Linked DNA regions of Homo sapiens. The protein of the gene in region 1 purifies or fractionates together with the protein of each later gene. This does not show direct contact. Each region holds a gene or a part of one and is shown on either strand. Other genes may lie near its edges.

The links.
Region 2: the proteins of ZNF836 (region 1) and TCP11L1 purify together in Homo sapiens (affinity purification with mass spectrometry, with the first as the bait; one large-scale study listed by BioGRID). This does not show direct contact.
Region 3: the proteins of ZNF836 (region 1) and TBCD purify together in Homo sapiens (affinity purification with mass spectrometry, with the first as the bait; one large-scale study listed by BioGRID). This does not show direct contact.

What each region holds. Positions count from the first base shown.
Region 1 is NC_000019.10:52,168,756-52,173,083, reverse strand, and holds the start of ZNF836 (zinc finger protein 836), read left to right. Parts: upstream 1-1,462; 5' UTR 1,463-1,748; intron 1,749-3,298; exon of another isoform or gene 3,299-3,302; 5' UTR 3,303-3,436; intron 3,437-4,328. UniProt on the Homo sapiens protein: May be involved in transcriptional regulation.
Region 2 is NC_000011.10:33,070,493-33,074,117, forward strand, and holds the end of TCP11L1 (T-complex protein 11-like protein 1), read left to right. Parts: intron 1-1,981; coding exon 1,982-2,184; 3' UTR 2,185-3,058; downstream 3,059-3,625.
Region 3 is NC_000017.11:82,940,530-82,944,175, forward strand, and holds part of TBCD (tubulin-specific chaperone D), read left to right. Parts: intron 1-869; coding exon 870-954; intron 955-960; exon of another isoform or gene 961-976; coding exon of another isoform or gene 977-1,525; exon of another isoform or gene 1,526-1,548; intron 1,549-1,619; exon of another isoform or gene 1,620-1,919; coding exon 1,920-1,934; 3' UTR 1,935-3,646. Other genes in the region: uncharacterized protein LOC124904095, read left to right, coding at 977-1,525.

The DNA.
Region 1 (4,328 bases):
AGTGCAGTGGCTGGATCTCGGCTCACTGCAAGCTCCGCCTCCTGGGTTCACGCCATTCTCCTGCCTCTGCCTCCGGAGCAGCTGGGACCACACGCACCCGCCACCACGCCCGGCTAATTTTTTGCATTTTTAGTAGAGACAGGGTTTCACCGTGTTAACCAGGATGGTCTCGATCTCATGACCTTGTGATCCGCCCGCCGCGGCCTCCCAAAGTGCTGGGATTATAGGCATGAGCCACCGCGCTTGGCCAACAATGATTTTTTAGGGACGTGATTCAGCTCATAACATTCTGTACTCTGGACTCCCAAAATTCATGTCCTTCTCACATGCAAGATCCCTTCACCCCCATCCTAACATCTCAAAAGTCTTATTATTATTATTTTTTGAGACAGAGTCTCACTCTGTTGCCCTGGCAGCAGTTCAGTGGTGCAAAGACAACTCATTGCAGCCTTGATCCCCTGGGCTCAAGAGATCCTCCCACCTCAGCCTCCCAAATAGCTGTGACTATAGGCGTGAGCCACCATGCCTGGCTAATTTTTGTATTTTTTGTAGAGACAAGGGTCTTACTATGTTGCCCCAGGTTGGTCTTGAATTCTTGAGCTCAAGCAATCCTTCCACCTTGGCCTCCCAAAGAGCTGGGATTACAGGCCAGAGCCACTGCTCCTGGCCCATTTCAAAAGTCTTAATCCATTTCAGTATCAAACTCTAAGGCCCAAATATTACCCAAATATTATCTGAATCACATATGGGTGAGACTCAAAGTGTGGTTCATCCTGAGGCAAAATTTCTGTCCAGCTGTGAAACTGTGAAGCCAAAGAAGCTATTTGCTTCCAAAATACAATGGTGGGACAGGCACAGGATAGACCGTCAGCCCTGGAAACCACCCTTCTACTCTGTTACTGTAATTTTGATGTTTGTAGATTGCACATGTAAGTAAGCACATGCAGGATTTGTCTTTCTGTGTCTAGCACATTTCGCTTAGCATAATGTCTTCAGGGTTCCTGGATCCAGCCACGGCTGCACATCAGATCTTCACGGAGATCCTAGTTCCCTGACTACTGAGTAACTTCAGCCTTAACTGGCTTCAGCCTCACTGGCAAGACCCGATGGAGTCCACCAGGCTCGCAAAAATCGATTTTGACTTAAATCAGTTCAACTTGACAAGAAGAAAACATCTTAGTTTCCAACAGAAGTGGACCACAACTTTAAGCTTTGACCTTAAAGTCTAAAACATTAACTTAAAATAGGCAGGAAGCAACGCTGCTTCACAGGACAAGAAATAGTCACAAATACTCCTAAATCGGGAGAACAAAGACTTGCTGGGTGGAAGGCAGAGCGAATAACAGGCCCCGCCCACCAAACAGGTCCCGCCCACACCGCCCGTCCCGCTTAGCCCACCTGGCCCCGCCCACTACCGCATCAGCCTTGCCCCACCCTTTCAGGGTTCCCAAATCTGGCCAGTCTTTCTGCCCTTTCCCTTGCGGGTCGCACCCCGCCCAGGCCCCTCTCCCGCCCCAGGTCTCTCAGTCTTTTTTCTCAGGGCGTGTAGCTTCCTGCACACCCGGAAGCAGATCGCGCGGGGAAAAGATCACAGCGCTGCGCGTCAGTTTCCGTCTACCTGGACTAAACATTTGCTTCGCCCCGTCTGCCTGAATCGAACGTGCACTTGGCAGTCTTCCCTTGTCCATACCCGTTTCCTGGGGATCGCTACGGACCTTAAAATACCAGCAACAGCCCCTTCGCCCCAAGTAAGTCTGATAATTGCTTCCCTTTCGGTTTAAAAATCTCTCTGAGGCTGTTCCTTGCTCCCTGCCTTTCTGCCTTAGGACCATGTAGACAACCCCACTCAGGTCGTGTTCCTGCTTAAAACCCTTACTGACCTCTGCTTCGGCCCTGCGCCAAGTCGAGTCCTCACTCGGGAGGTGGATTCCCGCCCGTTGCGACCCCGGAGCTTCTCCGTCGTCAGCCCCTGGAGGGGAGCGCCCGCCGTCCGGCTCCTGAAGGAGTCGCTTCTCCTCCCAGGTCCTGGGATTCTGCAGACCCTCCCTGTCCTGAGACACCGTACCCCCTGCCACCTTGTGTCCTCCTCACGCCGGGTCCTTTCGCTCCCCAGGCTTCCCCTTCACAGCCACTGCTTTTCTCGATCCCCCCCTTGGGGGAGGTCACCTGAGTCTTGTGACACCCAGTGTTCTTCCTTCCCAAATTTTACTCCACTGGAAAATATGCTTTTCCGGGAGGTGGGCATCCTATTCCTCCCCTTTCTTACTGAATGTGTGGGTGAGAGGGATCAGGAGAGGAAAAGAAGGGGAGCGACGGAGCAAAAGGAAAGACCGAATAGAAGAGAATGAGGGAGACCCATAAATACACGGCAAAATGGATGATAATTTAGGGATTTGCAAAGAGACAGCAAGAGTGAAAGAGAACGAATGGAGAAAGAAGCAGGGGGAGGAAAGCACACAGAGAAATTTAGAAAAAAAGGGGGACCTTCAGAGAGATGAAAGGCAGCAAAATAGAGTGGGGCGGCAAAGGAGGAGGCACTGCAGACAGACAGTGGGGAGAAGGTGAAAGAGTTGGAGCCGCAGCCGACAGAGCTACGTGGTGCTGGGACTGAAAGAGAGGGAGAGAGGGCAGTGGGTGACAAGCAGAGTAGAGGGAGAACCACAGCAGGGAGGAAGCCTAGGGAGTTGGGGGTGCTAGAGAGTGGGAACAAAGGAGGTGTAACAGGTAAGAGGGAATTTTAACAAGGAGAGCAGAGAGGGAGCTCAGATGGGGAAAAAGAGGCGGAAATACGTGGAGATTGGGGACAATCAGAAAGATTGGGGAGAAAGAGCTACGAGAGGTGAAGTAAGTTGCAGAGCATCGGGCAGAACAGACATAAAGAGGAGAAAAACAGAAAAGGGGAGGAAAGGTGCAGAATGAGAGAGGGACACACACAATAGTGAAGAAAGTGGGAGAGGACCCCATCCAGATGAGCGATGAGTTGATTGGATATGGATGGTGGTTGTAATATTCTAATTTGTGACTTTATACTCTAATTTAAAATTCATTTCTTTAAATTGTACTCGTGAGGATGAAAATTACCACTCTTTTCTGTAAGGCTTGTGCATTTTGTATTTATTTGTATCAAAAGATATTTGGAATTTCTGTTTAGCCAGAGAGCATTTAAATTAAGTCATTCGTGGTAACTCTTTTCTTCCCTGGGATGGGGTAGAGGATAGAGTAACTGAGAAATGGGGCGATAAATGACTGTCACTGTCACTACAAGGTATGTCTTTTTTTTTTTTTTTTCTTTTTTGAGACAGGGTCTTGCTCTGTCAGACTAGAGTACAGTGCCATGATCTCCGCTCACTGCAGCCTCAACCTCCTGGGCTCAAGCAGTCTTTCTGCCTCAGAGTGCTGGGATTACAGACGGGAGCCACCACGCCAGGCCTACGAGGTATATCTTTGTATGAGTATTCAGAGTCTTATTTTTTTTTGGTAATGGATTTGCTTTTTTCTTTTTTTGGGACGGAGTTTCGCTCATGTTGCCCAGGCTGGAGTGCAATGGTGCCATCTCGGCTCACTGCAATCTCCGCCTCCCAGGTTCAAGTGATTCTCTTGCCTCAGCCTCACGAGTACCTGGGATTACAGGCATGTGCCACCACGCCTGGCTGATTTTGTATTTTTAGTAGAGACAGAGTTTCTCCATGTTGGTCAGGCTGGTCTTGAACTCCCAACCTCAGGTGATCTGCCGGCCTCGGCCTCCTAAAGTACTGGGATTACAGGTGTGAGCTACTGCGCCTGGCCTACTTTTTTCTTTGTAGTTCCACTTAATTCATCGTTATTTTGGAAGCTTGAGATAAGTGTTAGTTTATTCAATATCTGCCTTTCTATAAATAATTACTGACTTCTGAAATAAGATTTGGTGGCATCCTATAATCAGCTGACGTCATTCATTTCTAAATGTTAAGTATTGTCATTTTTTTAAACTTTCACCCTATAACTCATTAAATTTTTCAAAAACTTTCCAAACTGTTAAAGTGTCCAATACAGTATAGACACCACGGTGTACGTTAGATTCCCCTGAACTTCTTCATTTTATAACTGAAAGTTTATACGCTTTGGCCAACATTTTTCCATTCTCCCCACCACCAGCCCCTGGCAACAACTGTTCTACCCTGTTCCTATGAATTGGATACTTTAAAATTCTGCTTGTGAGGTCATACAGTAATTGTCTTTTAGTGTCTGTCTTATTTCACCTAGCGTAATGTCTTCCAGGTTCATCCATGTTGTTGCAAATAGCAGGAGAATCGCTTGAACCTGGGAGGCGGAGATTGCATGGTTCATCC
Region 2 (3,625 bases), on another chromosome or scaffold:
CTGACCAACATGTAGAAACTCCGCCTTTACTAAAAATGCGAAATTAGCCAGGCATGGTGGTGCATGCCTGTGATGCTAGCTACTTGAGAGGCTGAGGCAGGATAATCGCTTGAACCTGAAAGGTGGAGATTGTGGTGAGCCGAGATTGTGCCATTGCACTCCAGCCTGGGCAATAAGAGCTAAAGTCTGTCTCAAAAAAAAAAAAAAAAAAAAGAATAAGGGTGATAGGGCCAGGTGTGATGACTCATGCCTGTAATCCCAGCATTTGGGAGGCCAAGGTGGGCAGATTACCTGAGGTCAGGAGTTTGAGACCAGCCTGGCCAACATGGTGAAACCCCGTCTCTACAAAAAATACAAAAATTTCCTGGGCATGGTGGCGTGTGCCTGTAATCCCAGGTACTCGGAAGGCTGAGGCAGGAGAGTCACTTGAACCCAGGAGGCGGGGGTTGCAGTGAGCCGAGATCGCGCCACTGCACTCCAGCCTGGGAGACGAGGGAAACTCCATCTCAAAAAAGAAAAAAAAAAGAAGAAGGGTGATAGGGCTGGGTGCAGTGGCTCACTCCTGTAGTTCCAGCACTTTGGGAGGCGGGGGCAGACGGATCACTTGAGGTCAGGAATTCAAGACCAGCCCGGGCAACATGGTGAAACCCCGCCTCTACTAATAATACAAAAATTAGCTGGGCATGGTGGCATGCGCCTGTAATCCCAGCTACTCGGGAGGCAGAGTGGGGAGAATCGCTTGAACTCGGGAGGCGGAGGTGTAGTGAGCTGAGATTGTGCCACTGCACTGCAGCCTGGGCGACAGAGTGAAACTGTGTCTCGAGAAAAAAAAAGAGTAAGGGTGTTAGGCCCTGTCCTGTCAGCAGTTTCTGTCTGTGTTGTGAGGCTCAGGAGGGTATAAGTTATTTGCACCTGAGAGGATTCCCCAGGCAGGAGGCAAGGCATGTAGTTTGAAAAAGTCTATTCCATATAAATGTCTCTGTTGTTTTTGTGATAAAATCTGCAAGAAGTGTGGCTTGATCAAATCTTTTTTCATGAGGATACACAAGAGTACAAAAGCATTGTGAAGGGGAATGGACTAGAAAAGCATCAACCTAAATTATTCCTCCAAGTAGGACAAGTTTACAAATGCCCATGACTTCCATGCAGGCATCAGAGAAGGAAGCACGAGCTGCTTTCATGGAGGCTTAGTAGGAAAAAAGTCTTTTTTGAACCTGTAATTCCTGCTTTAATCTTCCACCTTTTTATGTGATCGTCAGCGATGGCTAACAATGGTCTCAGGATGTGTTGCTCCTCGGAGAGCAGAGCATGTCTCCAGTCTTCCTTTACTCACTCATGCATTCATTCATTTTTTTTGTTTTGTTTTGTTTGGGGACAGAGTCTGGCTCTGTCGCCCAGGCTGGAGTGCAATGGCATGATCTCAGCTCACTGTAACCTCCACCTCCTGGGTTCAAGTGATTCTTGTGCCTCAGGCTCCCGAGTAGCTGGGACAACAGGTGTGCGCCACCACACCTGGCTACTTTTTATATTTTTAGTAGAGACGGGGCTTCACCACAATGGCCAGGCTGGTCGAACTCTTGACCTCAGGTGACCCGCCCACCTTAGCCTCCCAAAGTGCTGGGATTACAGGCGTGAGCCACCGCGCCTGGCCACTCATGCATTCATTCTTGCATTCCAAGTGTGTTTGAGCTTCTCCTGGGAGCTGGGTCTCATGCCAGTCACTGTGCTGAGTGCTGAGGAGACATGATGAACAAGATGAGCATGGCTCCTACCTTCATGAAACTAACCATCTAGAGGGGAGAGAAAACATTATAAATGGGATGAATATGCAGAAGTGCAAGGTGCTGTGGGTATCTGGTCTGGGAGTATTGATCGGGGACAACTTCCCCTAAGAGGTGATGGTTAAGCTAAGAACTGAAGCACAGTAAGGTTTGTAAGGTGAAGGACAAGAAACAACTGACCACTTTCTTTTTTGTCACAGAATCTCGAATCCTGACCTTCTTAGAAACCTACCTTGCCTCGGGTCATCAGAAGCCATTGCCCACAGTCCCTGGGGGACTCAGTCCAGTTCAGAGAGAGCTGGAGGAAGTTGCTATTAAATTTGCTCGCCTGGTCAACTATAACAAGATGGTCTTCTGTCCCTACTACGATGCAATCCTGAGTAAGATCCTCGTCCGATCCTAACGTGTATGCACCCTACAGCAGCAGTATTACTCACTAGCCACAGAATACCTGTTCTGTACTCTAATGTTGCATTGGAAAATGGCTATATAGTACATGTCTATTTAACAGCACCGATTCCAAAGGGAAGAATATTGTGTATCACTGTTGAAAAGACTTGTTGAGAAATCCACTGAATTCTATTTTGAGAGATTGTATTTATGAGTGCAAGTTTACAAATCAAAGAAGCATTTTGTTCTCGAGTTTTACAGGTAACACTCAGCTGTTGTCTCCACTCCTCCCCCATCATGTCCTTCCAAGGAGGCTGGGACCTCTCTCTTCTGCAATCTGGGTAGTTCTTTCAGATGCCTCATGCTGAGCTGACGGCCATCCAAGCGCAAAAGAGACCAAGCCATGGCCTCACCTCCTGCCCTCCCTCAGACAGCCTTGTCCCTCACCCCTCCCTTCTGGTATTTTTGTTAGAAGGGCTATATAACGTCTTATTGCCATTTTCTCCCCCTATTTATTGCTTCCTCCCTGCCTGGCCTAGCCAGGGCTCCCAAGCCCTTTTTTCTAGAGGAGAGTTATTTGTCTCTCTCTCTTTTTTTTTTTACTTTCTTTTTTGTATTTAAACATTCTTTTAACCTTCCCCCAAAGATACAGTTATTGGACTTTAAAAAGCTTGTTCTTTTATACAAAATTACTCCTGCATCTGGTTGAGAGCAGTTATGACTTATGAGATCTAGTGAAAGGAAAGTCTTTGACTTTCAAGCCTTGAAAGTCAAGGAGGAAATGTATTGAAAAATAGTTTACTGTAATGTGAACGAAGAGAAATGTCTGGAATTCTTACTGAAAAATTGACCCTGAGACAATACACAGATGTGATGATTGAATTAAATTCTGGAATTAGATTTAACTGTTTTCAGATAAAATAGCTTGAGTTCACGAATCTCCTAGATGAGGAAGTCATAGGAAATCCCTGGTGTTTGAGCATTATTTTTCAAGGAACTTCAGTGACCAGAATTCCTGACATGTCCTCTGAGCGTGAGTGATTTGGGTCTCATAGACGATCTGTTCTTTTTTTTTTTTTTTTTTTTTTTTTAAAGTGTACACATGTATGTCTGCATTTTAGACAGGGATGTTATATTAGAAGCAGAGCCATGAAGTTGGAATGACCAACTGCCACAACAGCAAGGGGTAAGACTATATTACTGTATGAGTAATGCAGTAATATCGGCACCTGAAGCCTTCTGTACAGGAAGCTAAGAGAAACTTACAAGTTAGCCGGGCGTGGTGGCTCACGCCTATAATCCCAGCACTTTGGGAGGCCGAGGCAGGCAGATCACCTGAGGTCAGGAGTTTGAGACCAGCCTGGGCAACATGGTGAAACCCCATCTCTACTAAAAATACAAAAATTAGCTGGGTGTGGTGGCACGCGCCTGTAATCCCAGCTACTTGGGAGGCT
Region 3 (3,646 bases), on another chromosome or scaffold:
CCCATAGAGCTCACGCACCAGGCAGCCGCTGTGGCCTCGGAGGACAGAGGTGGCCTCTCCAGGGCTTCCGCGAGGTTTTCTGGTTTGGGGAGGAGTGTGTGTCTGCTCCTAAACAAACACGTGGTCCCAGGAGAGGAACCGGGAGCAGCTGGGCTGTCTTCTCAACATGCGTTGAGAGAATGGCCATCTTAACTACTGCTCTGGAGACCCGTTTTTACAATGATTTTTTTAAAAAAAAACACCAAGGTGCATTCTGGACCAGATTCTAAAATAATTGGCTTTAGGACTGAAGAAGCCAGGTGTCCCGAGCGGGGCGAGGCCTCCTCCAGCGAGGCTGGGTCGGGGTGGCCTCCTTTCCTCACATCAGGGAGGGAGGAACTAGCAGGGTGGGCCTGGGGGCTTCTCCTATCGTTTAATCCCCTTTCTGTTAAAAAAAAAAATCCTTAGAATTTAAAGAGAATATTTTAAATTAGAAACGAAAAACATGCCCCAGATATCTCCACAGCATTGCTAGAATTTTTATTTCGCATCAACAGCTAAATTAAAACCTGGAAAACCCTTGTCAGCCCCTCCTTGGCCTCGCTTGGTCTGTCCTCCCGCAGTCCCTGCGCTGGGCGTGGTCCTTCCCGAGGGGCACCCCTTGTTGGGAAGGAACCGTCCTCCTGCGATTCCGGAAAGGGCTCAGGCTCGAGGCTCTGCTGGAGAACGTGCTCCTGTGACGTCTTTTCTGCCCTCAGCCTGGCTATGGATGTCGGGGGTGAGGTCTCCTTTCCCTGACTGCGGCCATGGAAGCTTGACGCGGGACCTCCGCACACCTGAGGTTCTCCGGTGGGCACTCGAGAGACTCACGGCTCTCCCTCTCCTCACAGGGACGCGGAGCTTGCAGTGGTGAGAGAGCAGCGCAACCGTCTGTGTGACCTTCTGGGCGTACCCAGGCCCCAGCTGGTGCCCCAGGTAACCCTGTCACCTTCACAGCATGAGGTGCCTGTGCTTCCCTGAGCTCTGGAATGTTCTGGGGCCAGCGGCTGTGCTTAGCTTCTGCCAGCACGTCCACACGGCCCGTTCCCTCGTCTCATGTCAGGACCCCTGGGATTACGGGACCAGCAGAGCTGCCTTCTCTGGCCACTGCCCACACCTGTGGGCCCCTGTGGCATCCAGGCCACTTGCTCTGGGGCGTTTGGGGGGCCGGGGAGTGGGTGGAGCTGGCACCAGCTTGATCCAGGCTCCTCATGCCTGGCCCTGGGGTCTGTTTGTGCTCCAAGTGCCAAGAGTGCCACCCTACCCCTCCTCATCTGCTTCCCATGAGTGGGGCCGGGGCTGGGTGAGAGGCCCCCAGAAGCTGCCCCTGTGCACCTCACCAGCCCGTCACTCTTCTAAAGTAACAAAAACAAGTACCTCAGTTCTCTCGGGGGCTGGGGCCCAGGGTTGCTGTGCTGTCTCTCTAGTTACCAGGGTTGGCTCCTTCCTCTCAGCCTCCTTCCGGCAGGAGGTTATATCTGAGAGGGAGGAGGAGAACCATGTCTAGATACATGGGGGCAGTGGGGATGGGCTGAGCATCAGGACACAGCCTCCCCCATTTCTGTGTGTGTAAAGGCTGAACTCAACAGCAGACTTTGGAATTAAATGTGCTTTTTACATTTTTATTAGGAAAAATTTCAAACGTGTGAATGCAGGTTAAGAGCAGTGCAGTGAACCTCCCTTCCCGCTCCCCAGATGGGGTGCCCTTCCGAGGACACGTTAGTCATGAGCACCTGTCAGCCACATAGCTCAGGCTGCCGGGTGTGTGGGAAACGGCACAAATGGTTTCCTGCAGGAACCGTGTCAGTCCCCACACAGGGCCCAGAGGGGTGAGGGTCCCCTGGCTGGGAATGGTGTGTGTTGGAGCTGACCAGCCTGAGCTTGTCTTGTCTCTTCTTCAGCCTGGTGCCTGCTGAAGCCAGTCCTGGAGCCCATACCTCACCCCTGCCTGGTGAGGATGTCTTGTTCCTGAGGGAGGCCGGTGTGGAAAGCCTCGCACAGTGGTGCCTCCAGCTGTTGAAGGGTAGCGCTGGCCCTTGGAGGCTGGCACTAGCTGACAGCTTTTCCTCTCTGCACCTGCGCTCTGGTGACTTGGGGTGGACGCCTCTGCCTTCACTTGAACACAAATGTGCTTCCTATAAAATCATGTACCAAGAAGTTCCTGCCTTTTGTCTCTGAGCCTGATGTGTGTAGGGGTGATGGAAAGGCTCACTGCCCAGGGGTCAGCCAGAGGGGAGGTGGGCTGCACTCCTCCTGCCTGGAGACCAGGCCCCCTTCTTGCCTGGTGCTGTCCCTGCTGTGGGAGACGTCTGGCCACAGGCAGTGCCCCACCCAGTCTTGGAGAGAGATGAATGTTAAATCAGAGGTTCAAATGCTAGAGAACTGAGAAGCCCTGGTGGCAGGCATGGTCTGGAGTGCTGGGCAGATGCTGTTTCTGGGCCCGTCTGCCTGGTGGGGGTGCTGTCCTCCCCCCTGTGCACACGTGAGCATCGTGCATGTGGCCCCTCTGCAGTGCAGGAGTCACTGATTGATGGGTGTGCCGACCAGCAGCTTCACAAATGTCTGCTGCAAGGGGAATCGTCAGAGTCCAATGTGTGCCTCTACAGTAATGTCGGAAATAAATACCATTCTTGAAATAATTACACTGTCTTAGGAGAGCCTGGGCAGAGTCCACACTTGGGTTTTTAGGCAAAGGGCAGGAGGCTACCTTTGTCTCTGTGTCTGAGCTCGTGCTGATCCATCCCAAAGCTGGTGAGGGGAACGTGTATAAAAATTTCACTGTGGTAGCAACCCACACCCATCTCTGGGACCTGTGCTGTGCTCATAGGGCTTGAGGTGCAGAACCACGGCCAGCAGCACCAAAGCAGCCCCAGGTGTGGCCACTCAGAGGCCCAAGGGCTTGGGTGAGCAACCCTTTCCCTATGTGAGGAGCCCAGGGGTGCCATGTGCGTGGTGTAGATTAGGGTGGCTCCCTGGCCTGCTCTCAGGTGGGGATGGGGCCTGGACACAGGAACATGGGCAGGCCGAGAACTGGGAGGTGCCACCGCATCTGTGAGGCTTGTGAGGTCACCAGGACCACAAGACCAGGACTGTGACAGTCCGTGCTGTGTGTTTAGCAGACAGCTCTTCACGGGATGTGTGTGACGACCTGGCCACACAGGAGTGTGGGGTTAACACACTACTGTTGTTGTGTTTGACCTGGTGGCCAATGGTCTTTATACCCTAAAAGAGCCTTGGGTTACATTTTTACGAGATTTAAATATTTTATTCCAACCTGTGTAATAGGGGTCTCCTCCTCCTTGAACTGTCCCGATTGGCTGGGGTCACGTGGTGAGGGTCCTGGGTGACCAGGCCTAGCCTTGGCCACATGAGTCCACACAGTGGAAAAGGCTTGGCTCCTGTGGTCGGCACACACGAGACTCTGGTTGCGCCTGCTGGGTGTGGAACAGGCGCACCATCGCCATGCCTGCAGCTCACAAAGCTCCTGCTGGCCTGGGATGCACTGAGGATGGAAGGAACAAGTGGCTTCTGAGAAAAACATGATGAACTGTTCTTAGTGCAATTAAAAGAAGATTCCAGATAAATGGCATTTTAAGACATGGAGGCAGGTCGATTACCCACCCAGACC